Homo sapiens: one gene and its partner. The protein of the gene in region 1 purifies or fractionates together with the protein of each later gene. This does not show direct contact. Each region holds a gene or a part of one and is shown on either strand. Other genes may lie near its edges.

Evidence for each region. The genes of interacting proteins can lie anywhere in the genome.
Region 2: the proteins of WASHC4 (region 1) and ARHGEF1 fractionate together in Homo sapiens (co-fractionation; one large-scale study listed by BioGRID). This does not show direct contact.

The regions. Positions count from the first base shown.
Region 1 is NC_000012.12:105,138,731-105,142,230, forward strand, and holds part of WASHC4 (WASH complex subunit 4), read left to right. Parts: intron 1-1,563; coding exon 1,564-1,671; intron 1,672-2,168; coding exon 2,169-2,315; intron 2,316-2,436; coding exon 2,437-2,516; intron 2,517-3,500. UniProt on the Homo sapiens protein: Acts as a component of the WASH core complex that functions as a nucleation-promoting factor (NPF) at the surface of endosomes, where it recruits and activates the Arp2/3 complex to induce actin polymerization, playing a key role in the fission of tubules that serve as transport intermediates during endosome sorting.
Region 2 is NC_000019.10:41,889,684-41,893,183, forward strand, and holds part of ARHGEF1 (rho guanine nucleotide exchange factor 1), read left to right. Parts: intron 1-2,341; coding exon 2,342-2,440; intron 2,441-2,647; coding exon 2,648-2,690; intron 2,691-2,919; coding exon 2,920-3,166; intron 3,167-3,500. UniProt on the Homo sapiens protein: Seems to play a role in the regulation of RhoA GTPase by guanine nucleotide-binding alpha-12 (GNA12) and alpha-13 (GNA13) subunits. Acts as a GTPase-activating protein (GAP) for GNA12 and GNA13, and as guanine nucleotide exchange factor (GEF) for RhoA GTPase.

The DNA of each region.
Region 1 (3,500 bases):
TTTTCTTTGTATGATTTGTTTATAGATATTTTATGTTAGATTTATTTTTTATGAACTATAAATACAGACAAGTATATGTGTATGTTAGAATATGTATAAATATGTAATACATAAGCATGGTTTTAAAAATAATAACCACTGTCCCACTTAAGAAATACCCACTGTCCCACTTAAGAAATAGAATGTTACCAATATTTTCAAATGCTGTGTTTTTTCCTAATTGCATCTCAACCTGTCCACCTCAGAGGAAACTACTGTCCTGAATTTTATGTTTATCATTCTCTTGTTTTTCTTTTTAGCTTGCCAAATATGGATGAATCAATAAAGCATTAATCGTTATATATGTTTTTGAAGTTTATATTAGTGGAGCAGTATTTTATGTATTTTTTGATCCATTTTTTTATTCAACATTTTGTTTTTTACTCAGCATTTTGTATTTGAGGGTATCCATGTTGGGATGAGTAGCACATCTATTTTCATTGTTGTGTAGTGGATAGACTTCGGGTTGTTTCCGGTTTTTGTATCATAAACAATGTTGCCATCCTTGTATGTGTTTCTTGGTGTACTTGTGCAGGAGTTTTTGTAAGGAATTATATACCTAAAGTTGGTTACTGGATTATGTGTTACGTATATGTTCACCTTTTCAAGATGATGTCACATTGTCTCTATAGACAGACTATATATATGTGTGTGTGTATATATATATATATATATATATATATATATATGCCTCCCACAATACATTAGAAAATTACATTAGAAATAAAATTGTATTTCCAATTGACCAACACTGGTATTATCGAGCTTCATTTTTTAAAATAAATTAGTGGGTATAATTGGTTTTATGATTTTTAATATTTAACCCCTGATTGTTAGTGATGGTAAATATCCTTTCAATTATTTATTAACTATGTTTCTTCTTTTGTGAAAAATCTGTTCATGTCTTTTCCATTTTTTTTATTGGATTGTGTGCCTTTAAAAAACAAAATCTTTCATTCATTTTGGGTCTTCTTATATCCTGAACATTAGTCACTTGTACCTGGTAGATATTTTGTGATACATCGGCTTGCCTTTTTATTTTCTTTATAGAGACTTTTGATGAACAGAAGTGCTTAGTTTTAGTATAGTTGAATTTATCAGTTCTATACTTTGTAAGTTTTTTTTTTTTTTTGAGACGGAGTCTTGCTCAGTTGCCCAGGCTGGAGTGCAGTGGCGCCATCTCGGCTCACCTCAACCTCCGCCTCCCAGGTTCAAGCGATTCTGCCTCAGCTACAGGAACTACAGGTGTGCGCCACCATGCCCGGCTAATTTTTGTATTTTTTAGTAGAGACAGGGTTTCACTATGTTGGCCAGGCTGGTCTCGAACTCCTGACCTGGTGATCCACCTGCCTCGACCTCCCAAAGTGCTGGGATTACAGGCGTGAGCCACCACGCCAGGACTGTAAGGTTTTTTTGTATCTCATTTACAAATCCCTTCCCTAGCCTAAGGTCGTAAAGATCTTCTATAATTTTGCCTGAAATTTTTAAGTTGATTGTCAGAAAATTATTTCTGATTCTTTTTAGGCAATAGAGCATATGTTCTACAGGAGAAGCATGGTTGTGGCTGATTCAGTTTCACATATAACACAGCACCTTCAACATCAGGCTCTTCATTCTATTTCTGTGGCCAAGGTATGCAGCTTATTATGTATTTAGCATAAGTATGTTATCTTTTTTGTTTGTTCTTTCATTGTTTTATATGTGTTTTCTGGTTTAACCTGTTTATTCCATTCCTTCAAACATAATATGCTCGGTTATTTATCTCCATAGTATTTTACAATTTTTACTTCAAGTTATTGGCATTATCTTTACTGTGAAATTGCAGCATGTAATACATTAATACACTTCTAAAAAGACATTGCACTTTTGAAATTGATGCATCATTTAAAAAATGATTTCTTAGTAAATTAACATGGAAATTTTAAAGTATGCCTAATACATTTGCTGTTTCTGACAGTACTAAGGGATCATATTACAGAAGTAAAGTATAAATGTCAGAAGCTTAAATGGGGAAAGTATTTGTGTATGCTCTCTTAAATTGAATCATGGAAAAGATAATCAAGAAGTTTTTCTTCTGAGTCTTTTGTTACTGCCTCAGAAACAAATAGTTTTCCTGTTTTATTTTTAAGAAAAGAGTGATTTCTGACAAAAAATACAGCGAACAGCGTCTTGATGTGCTCTCTGCTCTAGTTTTGGCTGAAAACACTCTAAATGGACCAAGCACAAAGCAACGGCGACTTATTGTTTCTTTGGCACTAAGTGTTGGCACACAAATGGTAAGTGTATTGCTATTACTTATGGAACAGAAATGAGATCTGAGATTTCACAGTTCCCTTGTTACTGACCCTAGAAACCTTTGACTGCAACTTCTCTGCCTTTTTTTCCTGTCCCTGATAGAAAACATTTAAAGATGAAGAACTCTTTCCACTTCAAGTAGTCATGAAAAAACTGGATCTTATTAGTGAACTTAGAGAACGGTAAGTAGGACTGGGATATGCTGTGGTACTCCAAAGACAGGGTTAATAGAAACATTGATTTTCTTTTTAGCATAGCAAGAGAAGAAATAAAATTCAGATCGAGCATTAGTTCCTTTCTGTAACTTCTTTAGCATGACCAAAATGAGATTGTGACTAGGGATCATATTTATTTAGCTTTGCTTCTACAGGAAGCATGTAGCCCCTAGAAAAACTCACATGAGAAAAAGCAGTGCAACCTCAGAGCATCTGGCCGACTTTGATGCATATCGTGATTATTATGTTGGGTATCTTTATTGGACTTAAATTGCTGTATTATAACAGGGCTTCCTCTATTTGTGTGAGACTTAGCAATCCATGATACGTAGTGTTCTATGATTTTATTTTAAGACACGAATTTGAATTAACATTGTTGAATTAGTTTTTGGAAGGCTTATTTTTGTAGCTCCTTCTGGCTTTCTTGTTTTCTTTTTGTTGAGTAAGCGTAAATTTCTTGAAGGGAAATTTGAATTTTGGTTTCCAGCTGAATTAAGGTTACAGCACAATTTCCATTTAGTATTCATATTTATAACTTACTTTTTTGTTGTTCTGGAGAAGCTGACATTTTTCTTGTTATTGGCATTTAATTTTCCACTCTTGGAAGAAATATTGAGCCTTTTTCATTATAAGATAGTTAATGATCATTCTGTTGCCCTTTAAGGTGTGAAATAGTCACTTGGCAAAGATTGTAGACATGTTAAGTGTGGGTTTTTTTTTGGGGCGGGGGGGGTCACAATTTTTTTTTTTTAAAAGATTTTTCTTTCCAACTTAGAGTCAGGGAAAATGGAGCATGTGATGCAAGTATTTAAGTCTAGTCATAGCAAATAATATTGAAAATGAGTTTGTTTTTATTTACCAAAACCAAAAATGGTCAATAAATGTTTATTTTAAACTCTGATATTTGAATATTATGCATATCATTTTTCAAGTATGGTTTACAAAAGCATA
Region 2 (3,500 bases), on another chromosome or scaffold:
GAGAAGTGCCCGAGGCATGCAGAAAGAAGAACATGTCAGCTGCAAGACCAGAGGCTGGTCATCCGGACGCCAAACCATCAGATATGCAGAAAATTAGGAAATTGCAGTCTTTCCCCTGTCTACATTCTCTTTCCAGAAGAGTGGTTCCCCCGACAACCACATGCACGGAGACTCTGGCCCTCTGAGCAAGGGAGTCCCCTATTCAAGCCTTGGGGTTTCTAGAACACCAGATTGTGGACATCAGCCCAGGGATCGTGCTGACTACCATGTTCTTTTACAGATGTGGAAACCGAGGCCTAGAGAGGGTCAGGGACTTGCCTGAGGTGACCCCGGCGGCCTCTGGGCATTTTGAGGTTTATTCTCGCATAGCTCCCTCACCTCATCAGCTTGTGGGGAGCCGATCAGAGATAGCTGTGGTCCCCTGGGCAGCTTCCTGTTGGCCTGTCTTAGAATTTTGCTATATTTGGGGGGTGTGAAGAGTGGATATAGATGTGTTAAAACTGTTTAAAGTGGAGAAGGAGGACCGGGCCTGGTGGTTCATGACTGTAGTCCCAACGCTTTGGGAGGCTGAGGCAGGAGGATAGCTTGAGCCTGGGAGGTTGAGGCTGCAGTGATTGCACCACTGCACTCCAGCCTGGGCGACAAGAGTGAAACCCTGTCTTGAAAAAAAAAAAAAAGTGGGGCCGGGCATGGTGGCTCACACCTATAATCCCAGAACTTTGGAGGCTGAGGTGGGTAGATCACTTGAGATCAAGAGTTCGAGACCAGCGTGGCCAACATGGTAAAACCCCGTCTCTACTAAAAATATGAAAATTGGCCAGGCGCAGTGACTCACGCATATAATCCCAGCACTTTGGGAGGCTGAGGCAGGTGGATCACCCGACGTCAGGAGTTCAAGACCAGCCTGGCCAACATGGTGAAATCCCATCTCTACTAAAATAGAAAAATTAGCCAGGCACAGTGGTACACACCTGTAATTCCAGCTACTCGGGAGGCTGAGGCAGGAGACTCACTTGAACCTGGGAGGTGGTGGTTGCAATGAGCCGAGATTGCACCATTGCACTCCAGCCTAGGCGGAAAAAAAAAAAAAAAATTAGCCAGGCCTGGTGGTAGGCACCTGTAATCCAAGCTACTCCAGAGGCTGAGGCAGGAGAATCGCTTGAACCCAGGAGGAGGTTGCAGTGAGCCGAGATCACGCCACTGCACTCCAGCCTGGGTGACAGAGCGAGACTCCATCTCAAAAAAGAAAAAGGAGAAAAAGTCCCACTCCCATTGGAGTGAGTTCATTTCCCAGATGAGAGCCCCCAGGAGCCAGGACAGGTTGGAGTCCCCACTGTCACCCAGAACAGGGGCGGGCACTCAGGAAATGCTTGACGAATGACAGAGTGAGCCCCACTTGTCCACCTGTTCTTTCCAAGCCCTCAGTATGCACAAGGCACCACCATCTGGGACACAGATGGATCAACCTACAACACCCCTCAACACACACAAACCCTTAAGCTGCTCACAGTCTTTCCAGGCAGTGGAGTGTAGTAGAGACAGGCTGCCTGGATTCGAATCCTAACTTTGCCACTTAGTAGCTATGTGATTTTGGGTTTTATTTATTTATTTATTTATGAAACAGTCTCGCTCTGTGTCACCCAGGCTGGAGTGCAGTGGCACAATCTCCACTCACTGCAACCTCCATCTCCTGGGTTCAAGCAGTTCTCCCTGCCTCAGCCTCCCGAGTAGCTGGGATCACAGGTGCCCACCACCACACCCGACTAATTTTTTTATTTTTAGTAGAGACAGGGTTTCGCCATGTTGGCCTGGCCGGTCACAAATTCCTGACCTCATGTGATCCACCTGCCTTGGCCTCCCAAAGTGCTGGGATTACAGGTGTGAGCCACTGTGCCTAGCCTAGTTGTGCGACTAAGCTTGACTAAACTTCTTGAGCTCCGTTTTCTCATCTGTAAAATGGGGATAATGACGGTCCCTATGATTGAACACGTTAATGCATGTAGAGGGTGTAGAGCCGTGTCTGGTATACACTAAGCCGTCAGTATAGACAGTAGTAGTAGTTGTTGTCATTATTGCCGGGAGGAGACCATGATGAAGAACCACAAAGGACCATAGCACAGGATGGAAAATTAGAAAATGCTCATGGCAGCCCCAGGGAGCCTGCAGGGGAACCCAGGGCCTGGCTTTAGGGGTGGAGGTCAGGGAGTGCTTCCCAGAGGAAGTGGCAGTTGAGTCCCACAGCCATAGGATGGCCAGGAGGTGAGGAAGGCCCTTTTCAAAGGGAGAGTGTGGTTTGAGGCAGGGTGAGGGAGCGGAGAGTCATGCTGTGTGTCTCCCCCAGCTTTGCTGTCTGCATGCCGACATGCTGGGCTCACTGGGCCCCAAGGAGGCCAAGAAGGCCTTCCTGGACTTCTACCACAGCTTCCTGGAGAAGACAGCGGTGAGAGACCTTCAAGCTGCCCCAACCCTGCAATCCCTGTTTGGGCCTGCAGAGTCACCATGCGGTCCCCAGCCTCTGCCCTGAGGGCAGCTGCTGACCCAGGCCTTCCCCAGCACCCTCGCTTAGACCAGGGTTCCTGGCAGTCCTCCCGGCCTGCATCTCAGCACACCAAGTCCTCCTCTTCACCCCATTCTCTCTCTTGAGCAGGTTCTCCGGGTGCCGGTCCCTCCCAACGTCGCCTTTGAACTTGGTAAGGAGAAGGATGGGATGAGGGAGAGGTGTCTAGCGGGGACCACACCTCCCAGGAGGCCAAGGGGAGGGAGGCCGCACTCCCATGCTCTGCTCGGACAGCCGAGATTCATTCATTCCTTCTTGGCAGCGGCCTCAGGACGTGTGGCTGTTGGAGTCCAAGGGTGGGTGGGGACCGTGGTCCAAGCCACCAGGGAGCTGGACCCTAGCCCCCATGTGTGTCCCTGCAGACCGCACTAGGGCTGACCTCATCTCCGAGGATGTCCAGCGGCGGTTCGTGCAGGAGGTGGTGCAAAGCCAGCAGGTAGCCGTGGGCCGGCAGCTGGAGGACTTCCGTTCCAAGCGGCTCATGGGCATGACGCCCTGGGAGCAGGAGCTGGCCCAGCTGGAGGCTTGGGTTGGGCGGGACCGAGCCAGCTACGAGGCCCGGGAGCGGCACGTGGCGGAGCGGCTGCTCATGCACCTGGAGGAGATGCAGTGAGTAGGCCAGCCCTGGTGGGAGCGTCGCCCCTCCCCAGCACAAGGGCACCCGTGCTACCTCTGGCATGTTCCATCCCGTTTGCAGGTTCCCTCTTCAGGGTCAGAGTTCATTTCTTGGCACTGGGGGTCTTCCTCTACCCTGGTGTTTTAACTCACCTTGAATCCGAGTCTTCCCTTTCCAGCTTTGGGGTTCCCTTGTCATTTCTGGGTCTTGTCCATGATCTGGCACTTGGATCCCATCCTCCTGGATGAGAGACCTCCCTCCCTCTTATGACAGTCCTTCCCAATCCCTTCCACAGTGTCCCCTCTCTGTCTCTCTTCCCCCTGCCTA